Linked DNA regions of Homo sapiens: all the other regions are linked to region 4. Evidence: fine-mapped expression QTL. A gene starts in region 4. Each other region holds a variant in brackets. All regions are shown on one strand. Distances are from middle to middle. Region 1 overlaps HIVEP1 (HIVEP zinc finger 1). Region 2 has its middle 52 kb from the start of TMEM170B. Region 3 has its middle 25 kb from the start of HIVEP1. Region 4 holds the start of HIVEP1 (HIVEP zinc finger 1).

Region 1 (5,154 bases), 40 kb after region 4:
TGCTTGCTCAGATAATAAATGCTATTTATATGTAGAAAGAAAGATGGAGGGATGATTTACAGATGACTCAAACTTATTTAAAAACAAATTTGTGGATTTCCACTAATAAGCTTATACTTTCATGGCACACTTGAGTAGTTTTTATTAAACTTCCTTTTTCTCGTATGCTCTATTTGGGATTTCAACAATTTTTATTATGTAATGAGGGAATATTTTTGTTGTGAAATTTTTCTTCCTTTTTGATGTAACTGTTAGAATTTGATGAACTGGTTTGTAACATTAAAATGAAGATGAAAAATTACAAGGTATTCACCAAATGAATGTCACTTTCTGGGGTGTTGCTGGCGATGATATGGGCTCTCTGGAGCATATATATCCGGAGGTGCTCAGAGTCTGCCCCTGTTGCTCCTAAGAAAGACAAAGCCTCCTATCTGATCAGCTTTGTCCATGACTCTCTAACTTGTTCTTACACTGACACCATTAACTGCCCTAAATGCCAGGCACCTACTCCGCCAGCCCAGTGGAAACAAGCCTGTATTAGTAAACCGCGATTGGGTTTAGAATTGGGACTGTTCCACATGCTCTCTACTTGCCAGATAAGCCTTAGCATCCTCATCTGTGAATAACGAGAGTTCATGCCTGCCACACATGGGCACTGTAAAAATTAAACACCATCGGCCGGGTGCGCTGGCTCACGCCTGTAATCCCAGCACTTTGGAAGGCCAAGACGGGCGGATCATGAGGTCAGGAGATCGAGACCATCCTGGCTAACACGGTGAAACCCTGTCTCTACTAAAAATTCAAAAACACTAGCCGGGCGTAGTGGCAGGCACCTGTAGTCCCAGTTACTCGGGAGGCTGAGGCAGGAGAATGGCGTGAACCCGGGAGGCGGAGCTTGCAGTGAGCCGAGATCACGCCACTACACTCCAGCCTGGGCGACAGAGAGAGACTCCGTCTCAAAAAAAAAAAAATAAAAAAATTAAACACCATGGGTCCAGCTGGGCGACTCCCATCCTCTCCTCAAGAATCATAAACATCTTTCTTTGCTTTCAAGATTAGCTCTCGCAGTCGGGCCCTGTCAGGCCCCTCCAGACAGTCTCACTGTAGATGCCCTTGCTTTCTAGCCCTTGGCCTGGTGGGCCATTTGCTCATCCTAAGTAGGCCTTTCCTGCTTCCAAGTCTTTGCTCCTACTTTTGGGGGGTCTTAATCTCCACCTATTGAAATGTTCTATTGATGAAGGTAGAAGTGGTGGGAAATGGTATCGGGGAACCACAGGCCAGGCGCTAGGCATGCTCATTGCTACTGGGTTGGCCGTTGCTTCCAGGCCTGTTCAGTGGACGCTGAGTGCATGTGTGTAGCAGATACACAAGTGCATATATATATATATATATATATATATATATGTATATTAAAATAAATATCAGGACGACAGGGTTTTTACTTCACCTCTTGGATCTTATACTTCTGTCTCCTTTCTCTCACAGCGAGAATGCTTGTACTCCTGGAATGGCAGAATTACTTACTTGCTTTGATATACACAGCAGTTCAGACTACTAATGCCAGCACCAATACCACCATTTTTCTTTTGTCATTAGTTTATGTCCCACTACGGATATAGGATTAATGTATTTCACTGTCAGTCATTCTTCTCTGTGTGGTTATGCTACCACCTTATAAATGCAGGGTTCATTTGTCACATTTTATTTTTGATTTTTAGGAGTTTTTATTTAAAATTTTTGTTTTACAATCACAGAAAATATTTACATGACTCCAAAGTAGCATCTAGAAAACAAGATACTGTCAAAAAAGTCCATCTTCTATCTCTGCCTTCTCCCCTCCAGTAAGTAACCATTTAAGAATATTATGTTTTATCTTTCCATTTTTGCCTTTACTATGTGTGTGTATACATAGTGTATGTATGTAAATACTATATAATTAGTGCATTTTATTATTTCACCCTAATTAAATATAATATATAGATAAAATATAAATAGATACAGGTATCTTTACATGTTAACATGCAGTCTAACCATTTTTTTTGTTTCTCGGGAAGGGAGGTGGTGGGGAGGGTGGTACATGAATGGGTATTACTAAAATTACTTTATTAGGTGGGCTGAAGTTTTTATTTGTTTTTGTTTCTTTTTATATAAATCTTTATAAACGCTTATTCACTGTGCTTTTTACTTTTAGTCAGCTTCTCTTTCCATATTTACACTTGTCCATAATTATACTTCAGCAATCTTGGGAGAGAACCTCTGTGGCTTTCTGAAAAATTATTCTTTTATATAAACTTGCCCAGATGAGTTATAGGAGGAACTGTTCTCTCCAGTTTCAAAATGAGTTTACATACTGTGTGGGGGGACTTTCCAACTGAGGATAGCATGTCGTGGTGTGTGGTTAGCCA[A/G]TACAGAGATCTAAGAGGCTGCACGGCTTTTGCTAACTTGTGAAACATGCCTTTAATTTTAAAAGCAGTCTTTGGAAATTCTACTTCCATTTGTACATGGCTTTAGATGAATAAAGACATGTCTTCTTACGGAATCAAGACCACGGCATATGTATACAGGCAGATGATGAATGTATTGATTCTTTTACTTCACCTTATATTTACTCAACAAGGAGACATCTAAATAATGAAATGCATCTTACTGGAACCACCCAAAGTAAGCCACTTAGAGGGCCACCTAGAGATAGCTTTGTAGAGCATGATGGAATATCTGAGGGTTTTTATTAATACATTTTAACTTTCTTAAACATCATTTAAAAAATTAATGTTCTAAATATACCTCCAATAGTACATGAAACTGTTACAATAGTGTCCGAACCTTATGTGTGTAAAGTTATTTGGTCAGTTTGGAAAATTTTGTAGTATTTGTGAAGAAGGGTACAAGAGCTAACATACATTGAGTATCTACTCTGTGTCTGGTGTGTTCCATCAGTCATCTCTTTCAGGAATTAAAACTATCTTATGAGGCAGATAGCACTATTTAATTTTTTGTTATGAAAGAGGCTGAGACTTGGAGAGTTGGAGTCTCTTGCCTTGTATCATGTACCTAGTAAATGGCCAAACTAGGAATTGAGCCTCAGTTTTGTCTGAAAACAAATTCTTACTGTTCCCAGTGTACCTTGTTACCACAATTTACTTTCTTTTCTTGTCTTAAAATGAAGTCTGAGGTTCTAATTTCACCAGATTAAGACTAGGTAACCATCTGTAAACTAGAAATTTTAATTGATAAAACAATCATTCCTGTGCTTTAAAAATGCAGGCTAAAATGGTTAGGAAATGCTATCTTTTGGAGACTTGTAGCAAATGCTCAGAAAGTAATTTCTTGGGGTTGGGCGGGGATTCTCATCACAGTTTTTAAAATAATTTGATTGTCATTATTGCAAAGCTGTGTAGTTCCTGTAATTGGAGTATTTGCCTTTACACTTCACAGCTATAATTTTCTTCAAGATCGGAAGACTTTCTGAGCAGCTGCTTTAATTTACATCTGTTTTGGGGAAAATATAACACATGTCCATAGTATATGGTGTTCATTATAAAGATTTGCAGTAGACAAGGTATAAAATTATTATAAATATTTCCCAATATGCTGTTCATGTGTGTGTGTGTGTCTGTGTGTGTGTAGGGATATTTTGTGGCATATATAGCCAAATTTTATTTGCTGTTCTTTAAACATTGAGATGTCCTGACTGTCAATTTGTGGTTTGTTTAAAAGAAGAGTGGGATTTTTTTCTAGTCAAGTTAGAAGATAAAGTTTACCAAGGATACAAATAAGAGAAGCAGTATAGAAATGTATTATAAGCCATGGAAAATTATTATAAGAAAACACCATTAATTATAAATTAACTAAAATTTTAGGATATGACAAAAAAAACATAAATAGGTACCTGTGAGTCTTAAGGGGCAAAAGACTAATAGAAATATTCTGAGGCCCTGTGGAGATGGTGTGGGGGAGTTCTGAGTCCATAGCCCTAGGTAAGGGCAGAATTGATTCCATGTCTTGACTGAAACCAAAGTGGAGGTGGGATAGGGGGATGCTCTGTTGGGGGCTGTGTACTGCTTAAGCTAGGATATATTTGGAGAGAAAAGAAAACATTAATTTTCCTTTCTCAATCATAGCAAACCCCTTCCCCCACAAAACAGAAATTGACAAGAGAACCCTAGAGATAAATCTGCCAAGCTCTGTTATATGGTGGCTTTCAGCCCTTTTCCAGAATAAATAGGATGAACATCTTGGTACATAACGTATCTTTTACTTAAGGTCATTATTTTTTTCAATAAAGAATATGACAAATAGGATAACAGAAAGGGAACGTACATTTGATCCTTCTCCATGTGGAAATGTGAGCTACAACTTGTTAGTATCAGAAACGTAGGTTATCTTTCCCTTCTCCATTTCAAATAGTCTGTCATATTTGAAAGCTAATAGCTTTCAGGCTCGCATTGCCCATAACTCTCAGCAACATATAAAACATGCCCACTCTGTGTTTATTTACTTTAATCTGTCAATTGTGATGCCAACTCAAGATATTTGGGATTATTACATTTGATTCACTCATTTGCCTGATGACTCTGCAAATAATTGGATTGATACCAAGGTTTATGCTGTGGAAACTATGGTATGAAAAACAGTATATAGTCTATAGGTATATTTACAAGAAAACATACACTATATGTTTGTTTCAGAAAATTTGGAAGATCCACATACAGAAGTTATAGTCACTCATAACTGTACCATCCAGAAATAACTACTATTAACAATTTGATATCTTTCATTTATATGTATACATATGGATATATATGCATATACCTACATATGTATCTAGACTATATATACATGCACATTTACACACATATACATATGAATATATAACTACACATGAATTTTAAAGCACAGTTGGCATCATACAGTATATCTTTTGGGATGCTCCCCTTAATATTATCTATTACTAGTATTTTTCGGTGTCATTAAAATTCCCTATAAACATCAGTTTCAAATGACTGCATAATATTGTATCACATGACTTCACCATAATGAACTTTTTTTGCTGTTATTAGTTTGTTTCCATTTTATTTGGTTATCGTGGAACCTCTTTTTTCACTTTTCTGATTAACATACATGATTTCATGACATAGCATATTATTTGATGTT
Region 2 (5,154 bases), 420 kb before region 4:
AAAAAATTAGCCGGGCATGTTGGCGGGCACATGTAATCCCAGCTACTTGGGAGGCTGAGGAAGGAGAATCGCTTGAACCCGGGAGATGGAAGTTGCAGTAAGCCGAGATGGTACCACTGCACTCCAGCCTGGGCAACAGAGTGAGACTCTGTTGCCAAAAAAGAAAAAAAAAAGAGGACCAAACAGATTTTCATAAAACTACACTTGGCTTACTTTTCGTGGGAATTGGTGTTGGTGGGTGACTCCAAAATGTGTTAAAAGAAGATGCTTGTGCTATCTTTGATGTGGAAAATAGGAGAAGGTACAGAGATGAGTGGGAGATGTAGGGTTGAGGAAACTACAATTTTGAGAGACTCATGACTTTTTTTTTTCTTTAAGTTCCGGGATACATGTGCAGAACGTGCATGTTTGTTACATAGGTATACGTGTGCCATGGTGGTTTGCTGCACCTATTTATTCATCCTCTAGATTCCCTTCCCTTGCCCCCCACCCACCAGCAGGTCCTGGTGTATGTCGTTCCCCTCCCTGTGTCCATGTGTTCTCATTATTCAACTCCCACTTATGAGTGAGAACATGTGGTGTTTGGGTTTCTGTTCCTGTGTTACTTTGCTGTGGGTGATGGCTTCCAGCTTCATCATGTCCCTGCAAAGGACATGATCTCATTCCTTTTTATGGCTGCATAGTATTCCATGGTGTATATGTACCACATTTTCTTTATCCAGTCTATCATTGATGGGCATTTGGGTTGGTTCCATGTCTTTGCTATTGTAAATAGTGCTGCAGTAAACATATGTGCATGTGTCTTTATAGTAGAATGATTTATATTTCTTTGGATATATACCCAGTATTGGGATTGCTGGGTCAAATGGTATTTCTGGTTCTAGATCCTTGAGGAATCACCACACTGTCTTCCACAATGGTGGAACTAATTTACATTCCCATCAATAGCGTAAAAGCATTTCTATTTCTTGAGACTCGTGACTTTTGAAAGCCCTGTGCATGTTACCTGAGAGGGGATGATATGAGACCTGGGTCTTCTCCCAGGTTCTGACCCTTTGTGCCCATGAGACCTCACATTAGACTTAATCTCTCTATGCCAATTTCTTCTTCAGTAAACCTGAAAACACATCAACTCTTTTTGCTTTCTCGTAAATGCAAGTTGAAACTTTTAACAGGACAGCATCAGTATAGACCTGTTATTCTCAGACTTTCCTAGGCCAGGACCAGTTTGGCTCCAAGCGTTTGACACTTAACATGTCCATGTAGTTCTGAGCCTTAGTCTACGTCCAGATTCATTTGAAACTTGTTTAACTTGGAGGATTTTTTGCAAGGTGAATGAGAAGGGAAGAAAATTTCAAATCTAAACTCTAACTTCTGTTTTTTTTCCCTTTTTTGCAATTCAACAAGGCAGAGGTATTATTCCAATTTTGCTGATCCAGAAACTGAGGCATACAGGTTACATGTCTTGGCCAACATCATACACAAACATATGTGTTCATATATGCACATGCAAGAATATATACACACACAGTGTCTTGATCTAAATTCAGCTTTTCACATAACTTCTGGCTTTTTTTTTTTTAAGACAGAGTTTCGCTCTTGTTGCCCAGGCTGGAATGCAATGGCGCGATCTTGGCTCACTGCAACCTCTGCCTCCCAGGTTCAAGTGATTCTCCTGCCTCAGCCTCCCAAGTAGCTGGGATTACAGGTGCCCACCACCATGCCTGGCCAATTTTTGTGTTTTTAGTAGAGATGGGGTTTCACCGTGTTGGCCAGGCTGGTCTCAAACTCCTGACCTCAGGTGATCCACCTGCCTCGGCCTCCCAAAGTGCTGGGATTACAGGCATGGGCCACTGTGCCTGGCCTGTTTTTCATTTTTTACAAGTGCCTGGAGGATATATGTAAAGCCTATATTACTGATAGGGTCATCATTGTAATAATGTTGGAATTCAACTTTTACTCTCAAACCATTTTCACATCTATAATGTCATTTTGTCCTCACAATCTGTTCTTATTTGAGGGAAAGGTAAAATGCTTTTAATAAATGAAGAAAGCCATTTACTTGGTTAAACAAAGGTCTCTTATGGGACCTGGACAGCTGTTTGAACAGATGTGCATGTGAAGAGCAGAACAGAGGTGGCCATAGCAGCCTAATTGCCTGGACTCAGGTAATCCCTAGAGGCCCAAAGGGATCCCCTTGGAAACTGGTCACTTCCTGGGTAACCCATGACTAGCTCATTTTCCTGCCACAAGGCTTTGGCTTATGACTTTTAAGAGACAGGACGTACAAAGGCCCAAATGTTCACTTGAGATCTTATTGAGGGGTTAAGTCCCGTTTGCTTCCATCAGGAATACCTTGTGAGGGAGCTCTTCAGTCATAAGAGTTACACACCCAGGTCACTCGAATGCTGATAGGATACAACTGCCACAATGCTTCATTAATATTTTTCAACTTTTACTTTAACTAAGCAGACTATTTCTGTCACAAATAAAGCAGCATGCTTCTCAGACTCTTGTTCCACCTTAACTAGTTCAATGCACACCACCAATTATCTGGACAGGAAAAGTTGCCAAATCAAAGCAAAATATGAAGGCCCGCTGGACATTTTGAGTTCAAAAAGGATGAAAGAAAACAGTACTTTTGGGATTATTGATATGGGAAGCTGTGTTTTCGAGACTGCTGTAGACTGGAGTCTGAAGTATATCCGGAGTAGTTTTGTTGGTTGTGATGGGAAAAATGAACAGTGTGCTGATTAACCTCCGAATCAGGATTAGGTCAAAACACCCCTACTCATGACATCAGGAATCTGTTTGTGTGATGTTAGAGACTGTATTGGGGAAACTATTTGAAAAGATTGAACCAAAAGTTAGATTAAAATCATGTCCATAAATAAAGACTAGCTCAACCTTATGTCACCTTCACAATGGAAGAGACAAGAGGTAGAGATAAATTGGCAAATATCCCCAAAATAATTTTTGTTTGATGTTGAAACTTGTATCACTTTACAAGCGTCACTTTCTATTTTAAAGCATTTCTATCTGAAATGTATGCAACTT[T/C]GTCTTTACCATCTCTGGAAGGGGGCAGAGGTGGTCAAGTGTCAAAGGATTTCTTCACATGTGGTGTAGGTGGAGAATTAAGACAGGAATAATGTAGATAATGTGTGTGTGTGTGTGTTTCTTTAAAGAACTGTCCCAAAAGTTAACAAAATAAGCCCTTGAAATAGGTTCTGTCATGAAAGCAGGGCTTTTTCATAAGAGAAAATGAGGACGATCAGGCTGAAAATAACTAAGAATTGGTTTATTCTTACATATCCATTCAGCATTTTTAATTCTGGAAAGTATCAGACATCAACTTGAGAAATGCCTCAGATCATTTGGTAGGATTCCAGTTTTATGATGCACATCTCAAAGAATCCTATGATTATCTTGGCTGTTACTAATCCAGTCTGGTATTCGTAACAGCTTTTGTTCAAAACTATCAAAAATTCTAGCTTTTAATACAGTAATAAATTTGGTAAAATAAAGCCTGATCTCTCTCTCTCCTCTCTCTCAAATTTTCCAATCTTCCCACTTTGTTAGCCACAATGACAAATGGGTCAGACTAAATGTAAATAGCATTTATTAAGAGTGTTCTAAAGCAGCGGTCCCCAACGTTTTTGGCAGGAGGAACTGGTTTTGTGGAAGACAATTTTTCCACCGAGTGGGGTGTGGTTTCAAGATGAAACTCTTCCATCTCAGATCATCAGGCATTAGATTCTTACAAGGAGCACACAGTCTAGATCCCTCGCATCCGCAGTTCACAACAGGGCTTGCGCTCTCCTGCGAGACTCTAATGCCGCCACTAATCTGACATGAAGTGGAGCTCAGGGTGTAGCGCTCGCTGGCCCGCCATTCACCTCCTGCTGTGCGGCCTCGTTCTTTTTTTTTTTTTTTTTTTTTTTTTGAGACGGAGTCTCGCTCTGTCGCCCAGGCTGGAGTGCGGTGGCGCCATCTCTGCTCACTGCAAGCTCCACCTCCCGGGTTCAGGCCATTCTCCTGCCTCAGCCTCCCGAGTAGCTGGGACTACAGGCGCCCACCACCCATGCCCGGCTAATTTTTTGTATTTTTAGTAGAGATGGGGTTTCACCGTGTTAGCCAGGATGGTCTCGATCTCCTGACCTCGTGATCCGCCCGTCTCGGCCTCCCAAAGTGCTGGGATTACAGGTGTGAGCCACCACGCCCGGCCTGTGCGGCCTGGTTCTTAACAGGTAACAGAATGGTACCTGTCTGCAGCCTGGGGGTTGAGGACCCCTGTTCTAAAGAACACTAACTGGGAGAGGCTCTTTTTTTTTTTTTTTTTTGAGACAGAGTCATGCTCTGTCACCTGTCGCCCAGGCTGGAGTGCAGTGGCGCGATCTCCGCTCACCGTAAGCTCCGCCTCCCGGGTTCACGCCATTCTCCTGCCTCAGCCTCTAGAGTAGCTGGGACTACAGGGGCCCGCCGCCACGCCCGGCTAATTTTTTTTGTATTTTTAGTAGAGATGGGGTTTCACCGTGTTAGCAAGGATGGTCTCGATCTCCTGACCTCGTGATCTGCCCGCCTCGGCCTCCCAAAGTGCTGGGATTACAGGCGTGAGCCTCCACGCCCGGCACCCGGGAGAGGCTCTTAAGAGAAAGAATTCCCTGGCCAAGGAATTCAAATAAGCTGGATAAAACTTGCCTTCTGTATTCCTGTCTTAGAGATTCACAATTCCCACGTGTATATTGAAGACCATGGAAAGCTCTGAGTTATAATCCTATTTGGCTCTGTTTAATTTCCATAAATACTCTTTTAACAAATCAACATCAGTAGGAGGAATGTCCCTAGTTGATTCTGTGGTCTTCCAGGAAGCGCTTGCAAGCATATTTTTAAAGTTCTTCCTGGTCCCCATCCCAAAGGTCTCTGGCCCATCACACTACACCTGAGCTAGGTTTTGACATCTAAGTTTTTCTATTTTTGTTTTGAGCCCAGGCTGGAGTGCAGTGGCACGATCTCAGCACACTGCGACCTCTGCCTCCCAAGTTCAAGCGATTTTCCTGCCTCAGCCTCCCGAGTAGTTGGGACTACAGGTGCGCACCATCACACCCAGCAAATTTTTACATTTTTAGTAGAGACAGGCTTTTACCATGTTGACCA
Region 3 (5,154 bases), 25 kb before region 4:
AATTGCTTCCTTAATTTTGTTTGCATTATTAGCAAACATTTTCTGTAATCAATGAAAGGTTCTATACACTGCTAAAAAATAACTATTCTAGCAGCTATTACATAACATAAAATATTTAATAATAGGTGGAAAATGTAAACAATTTAGAAAATGAACAAGATATTTTTAAGATCTGACTTGATAAAATATATGTTAACCAATAATTGAATAATACATTCCAAATCTAAAAAAAAAATTGCTATCATTTGAAACATTTGGACCCCAGTTACTTTTAAAGCAAATGGTATCACCAATCTCCACTGCTTGTTCCTTGAAGATGTTTTTCTTCCCAGTCAATGTCACATCCTTGGGAGGAGAATTGAAAGTAGCTGAAGAAAACTGCTTACATTTAAATGAGAAAAAAAGACAGTCATTTTTGGCATCAGTGTGTTTTACCAATGCTCCCTTTGCTTTGCGGGTGCAAACTCTCCCTTGGAGAGCAATGCACTTTTTGCCAATCCTTTTGAGAAGTAAAAGAAGAGGTGGTAAAAGATAACTGTCATTCCTTCCCCTCTCGGAAATGTCAGGTTTCAGGATGATCCACCAAGGGCAAAAGACTCTGCTTCCAATACACCTCTATATCTTTAAAAAGAAATATGTAGAAGAGAGTGAAATACTAGAAAACTTGTGGACTTTTATTGATCCGTGGATTAATTATAAAAGGAAGGCTCCAAGAAAACAATATTTTCAGAAGTCCCTTGGTTTGGTTCTCTGGCGGCACCTCACATTAAGGGGCCAGATACCACTATGGTAAAATCTCGGAGCGGTGAGAGGTAAATCTTTCATGATGATCAGTGATGCTGTTCACTGAACCTTTCCAGGCTCTCTGTCTGCCAGGCTCTGTGGGGCCAAGGGAATGCATTGTAAAGAGAAACAGTGACATTCTGGAGTGGATGGTTTCCCACAACATCCTGACAAATTCAACTTTCTTTTTTAAAATGGGAAAAGTTTTACTTTGAAAGATGAGCTAAGGAAAAAGAGAGCCCACTTTATAGAAGGGAAGAGTATATACCAAAGTTGTGCCGTGTATATTGAGACCTTTAAACTACCCACATTGTATACCTTTTTAGAGTCTCTATTTAGCCCAGTTTGAAGATCATTTGTCCAGGGGGAAAAACATTCTTTTAAATAGTTTGACAAAACACAGCTAGGGAATCTCCATGGAAAATATATTCATGTATTCATGATAATTCCTCATCTCATTTCAGGAAATTGTAAACATTCTTTTTCTTTCTTTCATTCTTTTTTTTTTTTTTTTTTTTTTTTTTTTGAGATGGAGTCTCGCTCTGTGGCCCAGGCTGGAGTGCAGTGGTGTGATCTTGGCTCACTGCAACCTCTGCCTCCTGGCTTCAAGCAATTCTCCTGCCTCAGCTTCCCAGGTAGCTAGGATTACAGGTGTGTGCCACCATGCCTGCCTAATTTTAAACATTCTATTATTTTAAATAATTTATTCTGCACTCTATTTAGCTAAGTATATGTGTCCCAACAAACTAAAGAACCAAAAGCATAAACACCAACTCCTTAGGATAGTGAAACCCTCCCCTTCCCTCCTCTACCAAGGAGAACACAGGCCTGACCTAGGAACTGAGCAGGGGTCCACTGTGAAACAGTAGTTGCAGTATCTGGACAGATTATTTTCCATTTTTAAAATAATAACAACATAAAAATAAGTGTCCCAATATTTTATTTGCATACCATTCTGGCATAGATCATCCCTTAGGATACATCAACATCATTTCAGAAAAAAAAACTGAGAGAATACTGTCTTCTACATTCCTATTAAATTTCCTTTTAATCTGTGGTTCAACATTATCGTTCCTAATTTTAGGTCTTTATGGTTTCGTTTTGGTTTTCTTAATCAAACTTGGTAGATTTTTTTTTTTTTTTTTTTTTTGAGACGGAGTCTCACTCTGTCGCCAGGCCGGAGTGCGGTGGCGTGATCTCGGCTCACTGCAACCTCCGCCTCTGGGGTTCAAGTGATTCTCCTTCCTCAGCCTCCTGAGTAGCTGGGACTACAGGCATGTACCACCACACCCAGCTAATTTTTGTGTTTTTAGTAGAGACAGGGTTTCTCCATGTTGGCCAGGATGGTCTCAATCTCTTAACCTCGTGATCCGCCCACCTTGCCTCCCAAAGTGCTGGGATTACAGGCATGAGCCACCATCCCCGGCCCTTGGTAAATATTTATTAATTTTATTGGACTGTGTAAGTAATAGTCTTTTGTATTTATCACTTTTTCTATCCTTCTAATTTATTATTACACTTTTACACCTAATAATTATTTCCTCTTCCTTTTCTTAGATTTATTTTCATGTGATATCAGCTTCTTGAGTTAAACACTAGGTTTTTTTTTTTTTTGGTTAAGGTATAATTGACAAATACATATTGTATATATTATATTTATGGTGTACAATGTAAGTAATGTTTTGATATATAAGTACATTGTGAAATGTTTAAATCAATCTATTGAATATATCCAATAGTTATTTTTTGTGGTGAGAATAAAGATCTACTCTCTTAGCAATATTTAAATATACAATACACTTTTATTAACTATAGTCACCATGCTATACAATACTAGATCTCGCAAACTTTTATTTTTTTAAGTGAAGGCATGTTTATTAAGTAAGTAAAGGAATAAAATAATGACTACTTCATAGGCAGGGCAGTCCTGAGGGCTACTGGTTGCCCATTTTTGTGGTTAATGCTTGATGATATACTAAACAAGCAGCAGATTATTCATGCCTTCCCTTTTCAGACAATATAGGATAACTTCCTGATGCTGCCACGGCATTTGTAAACTTAGACCTCCCAAGTTTATTCATCCTGCCCAATTGAAACTTTGTATCCTTTGACCAACATCTTAAAATGATTTTCTTTCTCAGAATATAGCTTTTGTTATATTGATAAGAAATGTTTTCCTTATGCCGATGTCTGAATATATTAATAATGTTTAAATCCGTAACAGCATATTTGATTCCTTTTTTGACT[T/G]AAGTCTTATTTAGGAGGATGTCTTGATATTTTCAAATAGTTGGATTTGGGGAAGAAAGAACAGTTTTGGAGTGTTTTTTCCAATTTAAAATCTTTGATTGCATTTATAGCATTGTGGTCTTAAAAAATTTTCTATACCACTTCTGCTTTGGGAAGTGTATTACAATTTCTCTCTGAAAAATTTTCCTCTGAAATAGGCTGTCATGGGTTCTCTGGATGGGTCCTGGTTTCCGAATTTAATCTCTAGTTCTTCCTCACTAGCCTTAAGAGTGGCATAATTCTTAACAACAACAACTCATAACCAACATCACATTAGCTTCACTATGATTTATTGAGGCCACTCTCAAAGAAAAGGTCCATTCTGGAAGGCAGTGAAGATAACAAAATTCACAGTACCACAGTCAGCAATGGTGTGGGCTCTTTTGCTTCTTGGAGCAGGACAAGTCAGCCCCTGGATTCCTTGCTGGCCGCCCCGGCTGACAAACCTAGAACAACAGCGGCACAGACATCCTCCCTGTGCGTGCCCGGCTGTTCCGTTTTGCTTCAAAGCCGGTGGGGGACGGAGGGGCGGTAAAATATTGGTAACTCGTGTGATAGAACTGATGGTACTAGTCAGCCATCTCACCCACCTCCTAAAGGCGCCTGCCCAGCTGTAACTGCCGCTGAGTGACCTGGCCTTGGAGGGGGCACATTCCACAACGCATGTTCTCAAATGGATGTTCTGGAAACATAGGACCTCTCCAAAAACGCCTGCTCAAAAACGTTGGAAACTAATGATAAAAACCGTCGTTTTATTTTATTTTTATTTTGCACCCGCAGGATGGACATCTTTTTGAGGCATGCCCTATCTGGTATGCAGCTGGAGGGAAAGCGCATTGGCTCACAGGCTCAGGGCTTCTCTCTGACAGATCAGAGCTGGTGGCCCGATGTGCATAACCGATGTAAATAATCAGTGATTCTGCAGGTGCCAGGAAAGTAGGTCTCTCCAAGGAACGAAGTTTTTCTTCATGTCCATTAACCATCAGTACTAATTTTACTATTCGATCTTTCACATTCATGTTTCTGTTACTGCCTGCTTGATGTTTTGCTTGGCTCAACTCAAAGACTGAGTTGATGAGGATTTTATTTTAATTACTACAGTAATAAGCTCATTGTAAAAGTTAAATAAGAGATGATAGAAAATTTTAACATCTTTGCCCAGGCAGCCCCCTCCAGTTCTTTCCTCCTGAAGTATTAACTTAATGTTGTCTTTTAACAGATACATACAAACGAATATTGAGGTTTTTTTTTAAAAAAAGGAATCATGCTATAGATATGAATTCCGTAATTTTCTCTGAAGGTGAATTTTTCTAATTTTTAAATGTGTATATTTCAAGCAATGCTACTTGGCATATAACAGTTTATGACTTTCAAAGTTTTATTATACCAGTAGAGAATAATCTATTTGGGTCCCATTTTATCTTTATCATCTTAAACCGATGTTTTCAAAAACTGTTTTGTTGTGATATAATTTACATATCATAAAACTCAACTGTGTTAAGTGTACAATTTAATAAATTTTACTATATTTACGGAGTTGTGCAACCATCAACAGAATCCAATTTTAAAACATTTCCATCATCCTAAGAAGAAACTTCACACCATCACTCTCCATTCCATCGTCAGCCATAGACAATGAGTAATGCAGTTTCTGTCTCTTATTATCTGCCTTTTTCCTTTGGACATTTCATATAAATGAGCTCATACAACATGTATGCTTGGCTTCTTTCACTGAGCACAATATTTTTGAAATATGTCCACCTTGTAGCATTTATCAGTACTTCCTTTTTTCTTGCCAACCAGCATTCCTTAAATTAAGTTTCACCTGGCATATTTTACTCATTTTTACATTTTTACACATAATACATCATGATGTTTTAGGTGCTTTATAAATGGCAAAAGATTAGAATTTGTATTTAACCACTTAACCACTGAAAGTGTGAATAAAATTTCACAGGAATTCTGAGGAGAGTGAGATCAGGCAATGCTTCAGCCAAGGGGCATCATCTGATCGTCAAGGAAAGGCAGAGTTTGAATAAGAAGAGACTCCACTGAGGGGTGGAAGGAGATGGAGCCTATTTCATT
Region 4 (5,154 bases):
ACTGTTCGCCAAGAAAAACGTGTGTTGAGCTTTTCAGTGACACTATCCTCCCTCGAACCCCACTTTCCCCAAGGGGGGCTCCAGAAGCGTTCACGCGGACGGTGGGGATGGAACCATAGAGAAATGGACCTCCAGGAGCCCCCTCTTTTTTGGGGGCAGAGAATGGTCACTTGCTCCTGCATTGTCCCAGGATTTTTGACAGTTGAAACTGCAGTTTACCATTCACATTCATCCTCCACATTCACCCTCTGCTTCATTTTTTTCCCACGCTGTGTTTATTTGATACATTTTGAGAAAATATATTGGATTTGCCACAAAACAAGCCTAAAGAAGCTACTTTATAGTATAGCCAGGTTTCCCTGCATCCTGATATCTGGGAAGAATTGTAGGCAGAATTAGGAAAAGAAACTGCATTTAGAAAATTCAAAAACTTACTAGGAAACTATTCTGTATTGTATATATTTCAAATAAAAGTTTAATATCGGTTTGCTGCTCAAGGAAATAGTTGAAATGTCAAAATTTACCTATCGTAATTCGAAATTGCATGTATGTTTTGTTAGAAAGTTCGTAGTAATGCTGAATCCTACATAAACATTGTGTTGACAGTATGTTGTGCTCAACAATTATTGGGTTAAACGTTATTCATTCAGTTAGCATTTTTCACTTCCAAAGTGATACAAACTTCACTCATTATCACATTACCTTTCTCCTGACAGATTAATAGCTATACGTTCACAGTTAAATGCATGTTTACTTTTGGATTCAAATAACCCAGTTGGGAAGTTACATTATATACTTTTTTGGTGATTGCAACCTATTGGATATCATTTCATTTCACAAATGAGAGATGGTTATAGCACAATGAAAATAAAAATTGCATTATTTCATCGTAGGGTTAGCATTAGTATGCTAGACATAATTGTACATGTACACAGTTGGATGATCTTTGCTTTTATAACCAAATTTACTTTGTAGTAGGCATATTTCTCCCTTTACATGATATTATTTTTGGCTACACACTCGCCATTACTGAGTATTCCATTTTTAATCATTCCCATTCTGGTGGTTTGAGCTTTTCTTAGCTCAAATGAGCCAGAGGTACGATTTCCTCAGGGGAATTTTAGGGGTCAACTCCAGCAGGAAAAACCTAGACGTCGTTATGGAAGCCCAAGGGAACAAAACAATTCAAGTTTGCACAGATGGCCAGCTGTCTTAGTGGTTGTATGGTCGTTTAGCATTTTTATTCCTTAAAAGGGGAAACCAGTTTAGTTTCATCAGGGATTTTTTTTTTTTTGCATCAATTTTGTTTCACCTTATTCCTCTCAAGTTTGAGGTGGCCCGTTAAACCAGCCACTTTTGCTTCTTGAGGTGGACCTGTGGAATTTCTGTGCCCCAAACTGCGAACGTTCTTTAGGTCTAACCCTGAAAACCTTCGTTACCCTGGTCCAGCCCCTCTTCACTGCTTTGCCATGGATTTCCACTCCTTGCTTTCTCTACTGCTTTCTAGCAGCCGGGGTCACACCTTGGTTCATGCTAATTACTCCCTCTTCCCCTTTCACGCTCTCCCCTCTTCCCTGGAGCCCGGTCCGACGACCAGCCCCGCACCCCCCTTTTCTGTCCCCGAAGTCCCCTCCCGGGTTGGCCCTATAAGCTGTCAGGCTGGCAGGCAGGGGTTAATTGCGCTCGCAGCTTCGGCACTGGGAAGCACCAGCGGGGCTTTGGAGCGGCCTCTGGAATAACCTTGGCTTTCCTCGCTCTTTTAATAGAACATCCGCCACCAAAAAGTGGTTTCAGTTCAGGGTTAACATGTCCCCTTCCACTCTCCAAACCAACACCCTGCCCCCTCCGTTTTTTTAAAAGTTGTTTTTCAAAGTTAATGAGTTTTAAGTTTCACAATGACTTTCCCCTTCCTTCTACGCGTTGCTGAGGAAACCCCCTTGGGGTCCCCCCCCCCCCCCGCCTCCCCCTCCCCCATTCTGCCCGGGCGAGGGGCGGGGCCGGGAGACCCCATGACGTCAGCGGCCGGCCCACATCCTGCTGTAGAAAGTAAAGAGACGGTAAAGAGAAACTACGGCCCCGCCCGTCCCGTCCCTCTTCCCGGACCAACCGCCCCCAACTGAGCGACCCCGCCAGGCCTTCCCGGGGCCGCGTGACTGGCCGGGCCCGCCCCTCCGCCCCCGCCGTGTGCTGGTTCCCCAGGCGTCGCGACCCAGGGCTCCCGCCCCCCGCGTCCCTAACCCCGCCCCTCCCCCCCGGGCTGCGCTGCCACCTCCTCCCGCGTCCCCCTCCCGTCCCTGCGGCGGCTCGGCCGGGCGGGGCGGGGAGGGGCGAAGCGGCGGGTAGGTGGCGGGGCCGGCGCGGTCTGGGGCCCGCCCCGCCGGGGAGACCCGGGGCACTGGCTCCGGGTTCGTGCCGGGCCGGGCGCCCATCCAGTCCCTACACCCGGTCAGAGCTGGCGGCCGCGCCGGCCCAGCTGGGCCCCGGCGCCTGGGCGTCCCGCGCCCCTCGCCCCGGCCTCAACCCCAGCCCCCGCGGGGACGCCCCCTCCCCCGCCCACGCGTCGCCGCCCGCGGCCTCCCCTCCTCCCGCCCCCGGGGATCCCCTGCCGCCCCGCCCACCCGCGGGAAAGCCTCCGACCTTCGCCCTGCCTCCCCCGCGCCGCCCGGCCCGCGTTCCTCCCGCCGGCCCCAAAGACGCTAAACGTGCCCTACTCTGCCCCGGGGGAGAGGTAAAGCCCGCGCCCGTCCTTCCCGCCCCGGGCCCCGCGGCCCCAGGGTCTGTCCGCCCGCCCCGCCGCGGCGCGCGCCCCCCAGCCCGGCTGCCCGGCTCCCTGGCGGCCGCGATCATGCCGTGGCTCCGGGCGCCGGCGAGCTTCGCCGCCTCCTCCGCCCGGCGGCTGCGGCCCCCGCCCGCGCGCCCCGCGCTCCCCCCCCCGCCCCCCGGCCCGCTCCCCTGTTTAATATTTCAGTGCTGGGTGGTGTGAGCGCCAGTCGCCGGCCTTCAGCGTGGCGGCTGCTGGGCGGCGGCAGGGTGGCGGACGGAGCGGGGGACCGGGGAGCGGCGGCCGCCGGAGGAGGTTATGTTTGTGTTTGGGGTTGTCAAGTGAAGGAGGGATCCCAGGCGCCGCCGCCGCCGCCGCGCGGGGGTCGCGGAGATCCCGAGCCGCGGCCGCCGCCATCAGCAGCGCAGCTCCAGGGCCGGCTGCAGCGGCAGCGGCTCCGCCGGGCGTCCTGGCAGCAGGTTCGGCGCGGGCTCCGCGGCGGGGGCGCTGCAGCTGGGGAGGGCGGCGGGGCGGAGGGGGGGGGGGGCAGGAGCACATCCCTTCGGCGGGCGGGGGGCGTGCGGGCGCGCGTGTGTGTGTGTGTGTGCGTGTGTGTGCAACCGCCGACCTTGCAGAGGGGATGGCTGCGTGCGGGAGACCCTTGGCACTTCTGGGCGCCCTCGCCGCGCGCGAGCCGAGCAGGTACAGAGGGACCCAGCCTCCCCAGCCGCCTTCCAGCCGCAGACGCATTTTGCAAGAGGGTGGGGGGTGAAAGAGACCAGGCCTCGGCATCCCAACCTCCCGGCTTTGTGGGTTTCTTTCCCTTTCGTTCTTTGCTCTAAGTGCCTGTTTACTCCCGGCCACCTGGGTAGTTTCTTTCCGGGTTGGGAGTGCGCGCCAGCTGCAGTTGGGAAGGGGGCGGTGGGTTGGGGTGCGGGTCGGCTCGGGCTCGCCTTGGGGTCGGGCTCGGGAAGGAGTTGCTGGCTGGAGAGGGGAGGGGGCGGCGGCGGAGCAGGCGGCGAGGAGGAGTCTCAGGGCTGCCGCGCTCGCCTCATCTCGTCCTCCTCCTCCTCAGCTCTCTGCATCCACTCCAGGCTCCTTCCTGAGCTGGCACTTCCATTCCCCCCCTCCTCCTGGCATGCGAAGCGCTTTGTTCAGTGCAGCGTTGCAGAGGGGTTTTCCCAGGCTCCGCCCTCCACATTCATTCATGTTTTTTCTCCTTGCAACTGTCTTTACGCTTTTTGATCGTGTCATGTTTTTGCTCCATGTAGTATTTATTTCTTTCCCGTAAAGGAACGGTTTATCACTCGTCCTAGTCGCTACAATGCTGCTGTCTTTGGAAATACCCACTTCCCCCCACAAGGATTTAAATATGGGATGGACAGCTAGGGACAGTGGGTAGGCAATGAACGGGGTAGCAGAAAGCCTTTACGGACAGGGAATGTGCATATTTTACATTTATGCTCCGGATCCCATGGGATCACATGATTGGATTACAGTCAGAGTTCACGCTTTAAAAACTTCCAAATATCGTTACCATTTAAAAGCTTTAAGTTTAACAACGAACGTAGTTAAGCATTCATGCAATTTATTTGGTTCAGCTGTGTCTCAATTCTTTATTGAATCAGAACCTTCCTGAATTAGATAGTGGATGTTTCTTTAGAGCAAGGAGCTGAGAAACCCTATCTTTTATAGATCACTTAGCACAATGCTAGATGAAATACTTAGACCATCATTTTTTTTTGTATTATTTTACCATGTAGTTAAAAATTGCAAATAATTTTGTGCTGAGCTGACATACAGCCAGATCAGGGATAAAATACTGAAGTTAATCGTGGCCTTCTTTACCTTCTGTTTCTTTGCTGTAATGAAACCATAAATTTCTAAAACCTTATACTGGGATGTTAGACACATTCCTTCCCATATAGGCTTTCTTAAGGAGAATTAATAGTTCAGCGTTTTTGTGTGACAGGCAAAGCGTCTACAATGTTTAGTTTAGTCCTTATAACAACCTTCTGATGTGGATAATATTTCCTAATTTTACAGTTGGGAAATCTGATCTTCAGAGAGGTTAAGTAACCTGAACAAGGCCACACAGTAAGGGGTAAAGCCTGGCTTTGAACCCACTCCGGTTTGACACCAAGATAAGTCGTCATGACTTGCTGCGCCTCTTGAAAGAAATCCTGAAAGTAGATGTTATCAGCTCCACAAAATAAGCACTGGATATAACTGAGTCATGCAGTACCACATTCTTTAGTTGTTTATCTTGGACAAGTTACTTATCCAATTTTTTTTTAATCTGTAAAATGAATAAATGATAGCTACCTTCTTAGTTAACAGATTAAATTAGGGAATGTGTAGAAAGTACACAGGCACATAGTAGGTGCTCATAA

What was found. PIP is the estimated chance that this variant, and not a neighbour inherited with it, causes the effect.
Region 1: its variant is the best candidate, but not a certain one, in a credible set for the expression of HIVEP1 in monocytes (TOPMed, PIP 0.62).
Region 2: its variant is the best candidate, but not a certain one, in a credible set for the expression of HIVEP1 in whole blood (TOPMed, PIP 0.58).
Region 3: its variant is the best candidate, but not a certain one, in a credible set for the expression of HIVEP1 in whole blood (INTERVAL, PIP 0.65).

What each region holds. Positions count from the first base shown.
Region 1 is chr6:12,049,628-12,054,781 of GRCh38, forward strand. All of the region lies in intron 2 of HIVEP1 (HIVEP zinc finger 1), which reads left to right. Among named protein-coding and RNA genes, the nearest start is that of HIVEP1, 40 kb to the left of the region's middle. RefSeq lists enhancers at 2,199-2,468, 2,499-2,548, 2,569-2,648. The variant A/G (reference allele first, on the strand shown) is at 2,406.
Region 2 is chr6:11,587,139-11,592,292 of GRCh38, forward strand. No RefSeq gene overlaps it. Among named protein-coding and RNA genes, the nearest start is that of TMEM170B, 52 kb to the left of the region's middle. The variant T/C (reference allele first, on the strand shown) is at 3,058.
Region 3 is chr6:11,984,818-11,989,971 of GRCh38, forward strand. No RefSeq gene overlaps it. Among named protein-coding and RNA genes, the nearest start is that of HIVEP1, 25 kb to the right of the region's middle. The variant T/G (reference allele first, on the strand shown) is at 3,031.
Region 4 is chr6:12,009,327-12,014,480 of GRCh38, forward strand. It overlaps HIVEP1 (HIVEP zinc finger 1), which reads left to right and starts at 2,986. Exons shown (of 9, transcript NM_002114.4): 1 at 2,986-3,240. RefSeq lists an enhancer at 1,037-1,581 and silencers at 1,911-2,820, 3,001-3,140.